Linked DNA regions of Homo sapiens: region 2 is linked to region 1. The links come from fine-mapping of genetic effects on gene expression. Tissue or cell type: thyroid. Region 1 holds a variant in brackets; the other region holds the start of a gene. All regions are shown on one strand. Distances are between the middles of the regions.

Region 1 (5,123 bases):
ACTGATTTTTTTTTTCAGAATTTCTGGAACATGGTGATAATAAGAGGACTGATTTTTATTTTTTAAATTCTCTACAGACAATGCACCCCCTTATTGCCTGCAACTCAAGGGGCAGGACTTCTGCCATCCCTATTGTTGGCATGCCACTGCACTGATTTTAAACTTTTAAAAAATGTTGTATGGGCTAGACAAAACACATCTCTGACTTCTGGTCTCAGGTTTATATTTGCAACTTAAAATCCCTCTTCCTACATCAATAGCCTTGCACGTGATGGAGTTAGCTCTAGGTATGGCAGGTACTACACCCGCTGAAGTGAACATGTGCAAGATAGGGCTCAGTTTCCCAGGACAGTCCTACAGCAAAGAGTTTTAAAATGCAATTAATTATTGAGAGTGACAGTTCTTACAGACAGTTTGGATGAAGTGGGTTGAAAGGGGAGGTTTGGGGGTGTCCCCCAAATTATAATGCCCCCAATGAAACAATAACAAGCATCATCTAAACACATATCCTCTCAGATCAGCCTTAGGGTGTGATGGGATCAGAGGTACCAGGAGGCTCCCCCGACCCTTCCACTTTATACCATACTCATTGAGGAATACATCTTTCTTCTGGGACCAGAGTCAGGGAGGAAGGTGGGCATCCTGGAGCAGAAGGGGTGTTCCTGTCCTTGTTAGTCCTGCTTCACACCACTTCTGCCCCCACCCCCCGCCCTCAGAGTCCTCAGGGACTCAACTGCCCGTGGCACATTACCCACAGGCCTGCTTCTCTTCTCAAGGGGGGCAAAGGGCCTGGGCAGCGAGGGTGGGGGAAGCTCAGGAGCTGCAGGAGTGGCGCAGGTGCAGGCACAGGGCGGGGTCTTTGTTCTTTTTTTCATCCCTCCCCTCCCCCTTCCTCCCCGGAAACCAGAGACTTTGCCACCACCAGTATTGGGGATGCTGAGCTGCGGGGTACGGGCCTGAGGAGGGATGGGAGTAAGAAGTGCTGTGGAAACCGTCAGGCCATGAACCAGGCTGACCCTCGGCTCAGAGCAGTGTGCTTGTGGACTCTCACATCTGCAGCCATGAGCAGAGGCGACAACTGCACGGATCTACTCGCACTGGGTGAGCTGGGCAGGGCAGGGGCTGGTGGGGGAGGGGTCATGTGGCCCCAGGTCCCACCTGCTGGGCCCTGGGGGTGGGGCGGGGCTGTTACACCCCCCTTCCTTTCACATCCACAGGAATCCCCTCCATAACCCAGGCCTGGGGACTGTGGGTCCTCTTAGGGGCTGTGACGCTGCTATTTCTCATCTCGCTGGCTGCACACTTGTCCCAGTGGACCAGGGGCCGGAGCAGGAGCCATCCGGGGCAGGGACGGTGGGTGAAGGACAACAGGGATGGGTTGACTGAGAGTTCTCTCTTACCGAGAAGTCCCCACTCATCCCCTAAACTCTGCGTTGCAGCTCTGGAGAGTCTGTGGAAGAGGTCCCGCTGTATGGGAACCTGCATTATCTACAGACAGGTAGGGAGCTGGCAGAGAGGAGGGGCACAGAGGCCAGGTCCTGGGTGGCTGGGATGGGGGCGTGCAGGAGGAAGGACAAGTTGCTGACCAGATTCCTGTTCCCCGTCCCAGGACGGCTGTCTCAAGACCCAGAGCCAGACCAGCAGGATCCAACTCTTGGAGGCCCTGCCAGGGTGAGTCAACTGTGGCTGGAGAAAAGGGGGAGGGAAGGAAGTGGGGGGCTTTTCGGGCTTTTCCGAGGGTCCAGTGAACTTCTAACAGCCTTGCATCTCCAGGCTGCAGAGGAGGTGATGTGCTATACCAGCCTGCAGCTGCGGCCTCCTCAGGGTCGGATCCCCGGTCCTGGAACCCCCGTCAAGTACTCGGAGGTGGTGCTGGACTCTGAGCCAAAGTCCCAGGCCTCGGGCCCCGAGCCGGAGCTCTATGCCTCAGTATGTGCCCAGACCCGCAGGGCCCGGGCCTCCTTCCCGGATCAGGCCTATGCCAACAGCCAGCCTGCAGCCAGCTGAGATGGAGGGCCTGGCACAGCGGGGCGTGCACTGCCCCAGCCCCCCGTAGCAGGGGCATGACTGTTTCCCAACCAGCACCCAAAGACGGGCGCCATTGCCAAGTCACAGGATGTGATCTACCCCGGACTTCCTATCTGAGCTTCAAGGGAGACATCTCAGGGCAAAGCTTTCGTGATGGAGGAGGCAAAGACAGTAGCCCCCTCCTTATTTCTTTTTTCTATCTGTTCCTCTTAGCCCCCAAACTCCCAGGTTCTCACTTCCTTCTTCTGGAGTTTAACCAGATCCTCCCCACCCCCGCTCCCTCATAGTCTACCCCCACGCCTCAGTGTCTCCTCAGGCACAGGAAGTGGGCGGTGGGGGAGGGGTAAGGGCCTGACAGTGGGTGGGTGGGTATATTCCTCAGGAGTCCACAGACTGGAGTGGACCTGGAACTTAGAGACGGGAGGGACCCGAGCCTGGCTTTTGACCTAAGAACCCTAGCAGGAGAATACAGTCTCCATCCTGCTGTCTCTGTCCTGTCCCCAAGTTTTCAAATAAAACTTTCCAAAAAGTGTTTAGATTTTTACCTAGAAGGCTGAAGACTTGCAAAGGGCCCTGCAGATGGGGGTGTGAGCTTTGCTGTCTGCACGGAGCTCTTTCTGGGGGTGCCTAGCTGGGGATGAGGGGCCAAGAGGGGCTGCGGCATCAACAGTGCAGAGGTGGGCACCGGGGTGGAGGGCCAGAGCCCAGCTCCTCAGCTG[C/A]TGTTGCTGCTGCTAGAACACCCCTGGGATCTGCACTCAGAGCCACTGCATTCCCCCTGGGGCTGCAAGCTCACAGTCCTGAGCTACTCTCCCCTTGACCTCTATAACTGCCATCACCTCCACAACCTGCCAGCCTGGTTCCTTCATCAAGTCCTCCAATCTGACCTCCGTCTGTCCGCTATGAGTCCCACCTATACCCCTGTTTTGACATCAGTAGCCTTATCTGCACTTAGTCATCGTATACCCCTAGAGGCCTTCTCCTTACCCCATCACTATGGCAGCGGTCCATCTCCACTCACTCTCTCCCACTCTGGCCTCCCAAAGTGCTGGGATTACAGGCATGAGCCACCGTGCCTGGCCTTCACTCTCTCAGTTGTCACCTGCAGTCTTGGCAACAGTTTTGCTTGTCACCACTTTCATTTTAATCCCCATCTAATTTGTCCTGCCTGTCCACCCATCACCTGCTGATTCTTAACCCCAGCCTCCTACCCCATATAGCATGCTACATCAGCCAGTTGGCACAGAGATTAGGACTCTGGGCTCAGGAGCCGGACTGCCTGCATTCAAATTCCATGTCTACCACTTACCAGCTGTGTGTTCTTGGGCAACTGTGCCTCGGTTTCTGAATCTGTAAGATTGAGAGGATATTAACGGTGTTTACTTCAAAAAAAGGTGGTTGTGAGGCTGAATGAGTTACCATTTGTAAAGCACTTAGACAATAAATGCTCAATAATGCTAGGCATTATTAAAATAAGAGAAATACAGGATCCTCTATGGGAGCTCATAGGTGAAGTGACTTCTAGGTAGAGACATGACACATAGTAGGAATCTGCCAGGAGAAGCGAAGGACAGAAAATGCTCCAAGGCAAAGGGAACCACAGGCAAAGGAGAGGCTTATTCAGAGGACCTGGCAGAAGTGCATTAGGCACAGCGGAGGGTAGAGTGAGATGGGGGCAATGGTAAGATGAGGCTGGAGGGGCAGACAGAGCCAGATCACACTGCGCCCATAAGTCATGCCAAGGAGCTTGGGCTTTATCCTGCAGGGGAGGTGAAAGGGAGTCACTGAAAGTTTTAAGCGAGGGATGAACACAGTGAGTTAAAGGCTCTAACTCCACTGGCTGCTGTGCTGATCTAGTGGTCAGCAGTCTGGAGTCAGGCGGCGCCTTTCAAAGGCTATTGCAAGATTTGAGTGAGAGGGGATGGCGGCAGTAGCGGTAGGGATGCAGAGGAGGGATGGATTACAAAGAGATGTTTAGGGTTTTTTTTTTTTTTAAAGGCCCCACCTATCACATCTTCCAGATTTCTGGTTAGAGCCTGTAACACCCCCCAACCCAAATCCTCATCATCATAATACAGCATAGCTCCAAGTTGGTTTCAGCTCATCACCTTCCTCACCTGGCAATCTCTCTCTCTCTCTCTCTCTCTCTCTCTCTCTCTCTCACAAACACACACACACCCTCCACCCCTTAAGCCCATCTGTGATCCATCTGTCTAGCAAAAGCTCCAACCTGTCAAACCTCTTCTAGGATATTTCAAGGTCTAGACCATCTCCCCAGGGCCTCTGTAGAGGCGGGCCGCGCTTGACAGATCTTTCTGAGGCTTGAGGGGCTGAAGAAAGGAGAAGCTGAGGCTTTCACTTCCAAGCTTCTCTTCTTCCCACTTGGAGTGCCACAGGAAGCCACAGAGGAGGAACCCGTGCGCCTGATTCCTGCCTGGTGGTCCCAATTTGAAAGGGACCACCCTTCCCTTAAGCCCACCCCCCTACAGACCCCACAAATGCCCCTGGGTCCCTGGACCTCTGAGGACCCCACCCTGGGCCTCCCCAGGAGAGGCCCAGGTCGCGGTTAAGGGCAGGTAGCTGGGGATGCGGAGGAGGGAGGGAGGGAGGCTTCGGGGGCGGACACCGGATGCGGGGAACCACCGGCAGCGGGATGTGGGGTTCTGAGGGCTGCGGTGCTTCTGAAGATGGCTCAGCGTCGCGCCAGGTGGACGTGAGAGCTTTACCCTGGAGGAGGCGGGGGTTGGAGTCCCGCCTACCCACTGGGACAAGCCAAGGGGTCAAACGCCCCCAACCCAGCCCGCAGATCTCCTCGAAGCACCCGGTTCTCCTGGCCCGCCCAGACCCACGGCGCTCGCCGCCTTCGCCCGCTTAGGACTGAGTCCGCAGCGCCGCCGCCTGGCGAGGGGCGGAGTTGCCACCACTTCTGCGCAGGCGGGATGCAGCCTGGCCCGCGGCATCCCGGGAGTTGTAGTCTCGACGCTTCGGGGCCACCCCAGGGTCTGGTCCCTGACGACGCGCAGTGAGGGCCCCGCCGCTACCCCAGCAGTCGCCTCCCAAGTTCGCGGAACGCAGCTGACCGGCTCCCTCTGGACTGG
Region 2 (5,148 bases), 83 kb before region 1:
ATAACAAAGATACGGGGATATGGCCTGTATCCTCCCTTCAAAAACCTAATACTTACAACAGAGTCCCTCTCCCTTTCATACCTGCTCTCTAAACCCCCAACATACACCTTCTTTTTCCTGCGGCTCTCTTGAGCAGATCTTTTATTTCGAATCTTCCTCCGCACACGTTTCAGAATTTGTTCCTCTGTCTGAAAGGAAACAGGGAAAGGGATATCATTAGAGGAACTCTAGAAAAAGGAGTTGAAACGCAACTGAGATCAATCTCTTTCCAATACAGAAATCCCTTCTACAGCTTCCCTGACCAACAGGCATTCAGATTCTTTCTGAATGCCTCCACGGACCAGGTGTTAACCCTAACAAGCCAGACCATTTTAAACTATTAAAAAAAAAACTGGTCGGGCAGTATTCAGGCGACGTGGCTCATGCCTGTAATCCCAACACTTTGGGGAGCTAAGACAGGAGGACCGGTTGAGCCCAGGAGTTTGAGACCAGCCTGAGCAACATAGTGAGACCTTGTCTCTACTAAAAATAAAAAATTAGCCGGGTGTGGTGGCACATGCCTGTGGTCCCTGCTACTCAGGAGACTGAGGAAGGAGGATCACTTGAGCCTGAGAGGTTGAAGCTGTAGTGAGCCATGATCTCGCCACTATTCTCCAACCTGGGCAATAAAGCAAGAACCTGTCTTCAAACAAGCAAATAAAAACTTCCTTATCCTGAACCAACAGCTGCCTCCTTATAATTTCTATCCGTTGGACTTACCTAGTATCTCTGGGGCCAAATAGAATAAACCCTGTTTAGCTATTTTAAGGCACTTAACATTTCCTCAGAGCTTAAAGAAAAAAAAAAAGACAAAATTTTTAACTCATCTTCTCAGGATAGACTGCATCCTCTTAGTATCTGTCAAAGATGTGCTCTAGCCAGTATCAAGGAAAGCAAGAGAGTGACTTGTAGAGACAATAACTCTATTGCTACAGTTTCCAAATCCCATGAACTTTCTTAGTAGCCACATCACACTGCTGACTCATCTTGTACTTTGAAGAAATTAAAATTCTTCACTTTGGGAGGCCAAGGTGGGTAGATCACTTGAGCCCAGGAGTTCGAGACCAGCCTGGCAACAAGGCAAAACCCCATTTCTACTAAAAATACCAAAAAAAAAATTGCCGGGCAGGGTAGTGTGCACCTGTAGTCTCAGCTACTCGGGAGGCTGAGGTGGGAGAATCACCTAAGCCCAGAAAGTCAAGGCTGCAGTGAGCCATGATCACATCAGTGCACTCCAGCCTGGGCAACAGAGCAAGACCTTGTCAAAAAATATATATATATTCCTGTAACCTTTCTATTAATGAGCACTGATTTCATCATAGTACCCCAGTACTCTGCTTGTGAAGTTGCCACTCATTGCTTAAAACTGAAAACTAAGGATTTTACATTTATTCATGTACTGCTTAGTCCAACCCTGTTGAACTCTCTAAACAGTTCTACCATTCAGCAAGAGGTGGATTACTATGAAGCCAACGAAGTGTCAAGGCCCTTCACTTACACAGTCCTTTCCAAGGCCCAATACTAATGTTGCACTGATAATTTTGAGTTATTTTTTTAACAGAACACCAAAATTTGTATAAGCCCAACAAAAACGAGGATCTGCCCTTGCATCTGGCATATTGTGTACCTGCCTCAACTTCCTATTAGCAATAAATCTACTAAGTTTCTCACCTCAATCCTTTTTTAAAGTTATTGATATAAAGTTAACAGAATTTGCCTACTTGGGACTTTTAATCCCTTTTCAGCCTTTGTTCAACCAATGAGAGTCTTACCTTAGTGAGAGGAAGTGTCTCAGGCAGAATAAGCCCCTCCTTCTCCAATAGACTCTTCTCCTCATCTGTCAGTACTAGCCTAGCAATCTCCTAGGGTAACAAGAAAGTGGACGGCAGTTGCATGGGGATGTCAGAGAGGAATGGGGAATCCTGCCCCCACCTGGGGAATGTGAGAGTAATCTCCTGAAAATCAAGTCAAGTACCTGCTCTGCCAGCTCCTCCATATGCTGTGGAGTCATCTGGGTCCCCTCTTTTCTACAGCTCTCACTCTCTGCAAAAGGGAAAGTATGAATAGCCAGGCCCATGAACCCTGTCCTCCCCGCAAACTTATTTCAGACTCACCTAGATCCATAGAGACAGTTTCCCGTGGGAGGGAGTAGGTGTGGTCATGGTGGACAAGGCAGGGGTTGGAGGAGCTGAGAATGTTCAACGACGCTGGGGGACTCAGCAGGGAGCACAGCAAATCATCTACTTCCCAGTCGCTCGGTACCTGCGCAGGGTTCCAATGAACAGGCCTTGACCTTATCACCATCACCTGACTTCATGGACATCCCACGCTTTCCCCAGTCAGAACCCCAACCTACCTCAGAAAGCGGCAGCGCCCAGTCCAGTGGGGCCCTCACGGCCTCATCGGGTGCCGTCCCCAAATCTCCACTTTCCTCTAGCAGGAAGGCCAGCAGGTCTTGGTCACCAGCATCCAATTCCAGCTCCATTTGGGACAACTACGGAAAGGGTGGGCCACCGGGCCCCAACGTCCGAAGCCCAGACACGAGCCCCAGGCCAGCTGTAGGCCTCGGGCACCTATCCACTGTCCCTCTACGGCCGGGATTCCCCGCCGGCGGCTTTCCATAGCCCTCTCCGGACCCGCCTCCCAGGCTCAATTCTCCTCAGCCTCCAACGCAGCGAAAGTGACGCACCCCACCCCGTGGCACTGTGGGACTTGGAGTTCCCTCCAACTGAGAAGAGGCTTGGGTGCAGCGCCACGTCCCAGGGGCTATGCAAATGTAGGGGACGGCCCTGCTGCCGCCTCGCACCCCGAGGGCGGGGGTTCCGGGGCTCCGGCTCCGCCTTCTACCCCAAGCTAGAAAAAGGAAGAGTTCTAGCCTGAAAGGGAACTCGGGCGTCGTCCTGGCGTCCTCTCCGGATTGCGCCGCACCCTCGCTTCCTGCCAGGGAGGGGCTGCCGGGCTTTGGCGGCTCCCGAGCATCGAGAACGGGGCCAGAGCAGCTTCCTGCCTGCCCCCCGCGACCATAGAGCGCGGGCCCAGGGCGCCGCCCGCGGGTGGGGGACGTTCCCAGGACGGAAGTGGCCGAGAGAGTGTCGAAGGGAGGGCGAGGCCGGAGCCCGAGGGCGACCCGAGAAGCGGCGGGGCGGCGGGCCGGCGGGCGGGGCGCAGAGCCAGGCAGCGCAGGTAGGCCAGACCGGGCCGGGCGGGGGCCTTAGGGTGGGGCCGCGGGGCCTGGCCCCGGGGCGGGCGGGCCCTGCCTCTCTTGCGTGTCCGGTTCGGGTCCTATTAGTTGGAGAGGTCAGCGTCCAGCGCATCTCGGCTTGAGCTCGGCGTGAAGTAGGCCGTCTTGGGGAAGACAGGCCTTTCCTGGGAGCAGTCCTATGTCTGGGATAGGCTTTGGGGAGCGTGAGGAGTCGGGTGGCAGCGGGGCGCAGGGCGGGGACGGGCTTTGGTGTTAGCTGATAGCGGGCATGTGGGTAGGAAAGCTTTGGGTGAGTTGGGGATTAGGTGGGGTCCGTTTAGGAATCAAGGGTCGCTATAGGAGTTAAAAGCTGGGGTTAAAACTTAAGAGTTAGTGTGAGTCAGGTCCGTTTTAGATAGGTAAGGTTTAGATTACGGTCATTATCTTGTTTGCTGGGATGGCCATCATACGTCATAATTTGAGTTCAGGGTCAGGTTAAGGGTCAACAAACAACAGGAATCAGGTTAGAGCTTGTTTGAGGGATTAAAGAATGTTGGCATGGTCGGTGTTAAGGATAAACAGTGAAAGCGTGAGTTAGGAATCAAATTATAAATGAACTTTAGGCTTAGGGGTCAACATTTAGGGTTAACATCAGGGGATTTGGTGCTAAAGGCAAAACTTAGATCAGTTTCAGGGATCAGGGATTGGATATGAGTCTGTGCTAGGAAAGGGATGAATGTCCAAGCCGGTACTGGGAATCAGGAAACAAATTAGAGGTGGGGTTAATGTTAGGAATTTGGGGCAGCTTTAGGGGTTGTGGTTTGAGGCTAGCATAGTTGACCTTGAGCAGATAAAATTTAAGAGGTTGGCAGTAGGTAAATGCCCTTCTTTTGTAGGGAAATCCTTTATTCCTATGTAGTTACAGGGGCTTCTTTTTACCCAGAGAGATAAACTAATTTCAGGCTAGCGTTCTGGCTTTAGCTAGAATTGCAGGCATCTGGGATTCCAGCTTCTTTATTCCATTCTCTAAGCCCAAGGCCCTTGCTGTGGCCACCACAGTTAGGGGACAGAGATTCTGGACTGTGTTGTTTACAGACAACATAGGTGGGAAATAGGGACCCAGGATGTACAAGGCCTAGTCACAAGTTGGGGACTGCCTAGGGAAGAAGGAGCTGATGACTATGGGGGAAGCTAACCAAGGAATCACTGTTGCCATGGGAGAAGGGAATAACTGAATCCCCTGAAAGTTTAGCCCTGCTTCTCCCACTTCACTTGTTCTCTTGGTATTAAGCCCTCCTCTCCAACTCTCATCCCTGACTCTGCATTTCACACCCATCCTGCCTATCCCCTTACAAAATACTTCCCTTGCCTTTAACTCTCCCATGCTCATCTTATCATCCGTTCCCATCCTTAGTTCTACCTCCCTCACCAACCTTTAATCCGCACATCCTACCTGAATTTACCCTCATCAAAACCTGAGCTTTCCCATCATTTTAAATTACTCTCCTACCATTTTCACCCAGTCATGTACCTACATTCCACCTGGTCATCTGCTGAATACCCTACTCCCATCCCCTGCTGTGTGTCACCCCCTGGATCTAAGCCTCTTTTAATTTCTTGGACCATTTGTAGATCCCCTTCCCCCACTCCCCAACAGAAAAGAGGAAACGAGACCCAAAGAGGAAACTGGGTCTTGCTGATCCCACGCCCAGCCAGGCCACTGACCACACCCCCACTTCACTCCCAGCCTGACCCTGCCACTGACCACAGCACTATCCTCTACTCAGCCTGACCCAGCCACTGGCTGTACCCCATCCCCCATCCCAGCTCCAGCTTTACTTAGACATTGCCAATGTCCCTTCACTTTCCCACCCCCACCCCAGTCTGATTTAGTGACTGACCACAGGCCCAGCTCTTCTCAACCTCCT

The links. PIP is the estimated chance that this variant, and not a neighbour inherited with it, causes the effect.
Region 2: TLN1 starts here. The variant in region 1 is fine-mapped to the expression of TLN1 in thyroid (GTEx, PIP 0.97).

What each region holds. Positions count from the first base shown.
Region 1 is chr9:35,646,732-35,651,854 of GRCh38, reverse strand. SIT1 (signaling threshold regulating transmembrane adaptor 1) reads left to right here and starts at 924. Exons shown (of 5, transcript NM_014450.3): 1 at 924-1,101; 2 at 1,218-1,353; 3 at 1,440-1,498; 4 at 1,610-1,671; 5 at 1,774-2,560. The coding sequence starts at 1,002. The coding sequence ends at 2,007. LOC101926948 (a long non-coding RNA gene) reads right to left here. Exons shown (of 2, transcript NR_135130.1): 2 at 4,379-5,123. It also overlaps a transcript of CD72 not described here. RefSeq lists a silencer at 1,144-1,213 and enhancers at 2,124-2,173, 5,034-5,123. The variant C/A (reference allele first, on the strand shown) is at 2,748.
Region 2 is chr9:35,730,149-35,735,296 of GRCh38, reverse strand. TLN1 (talin 1) reads left to right here and starts at 3,102. Exons shown (of 57, transcript NM_006289.4): 1 at 3,102-3,222. It overlaps CREB3 (cAMP responsive element binding protein 3), which reads right to left and starts at 2,631. Exons shown (of 9, transcript NM_006368.5): 1 at 2,396-2,631; 2 at 2,154-2,301; 3 at 2,015-2,082; 4 at 1,812-1,901; 5 at 82-188. The coding sequence starts at 2,524. It overlaps MIR6853 (microRNA 6853), which reads right to left and starts at 2,375; the gene lies at 2,302-2,375. RefSeq lists enhancers at 2,506-2,595, 2,646-2,695, 3,496-3,545, 4,935-4,994 and silencers at 2,826-2,985, 3,026-3,315.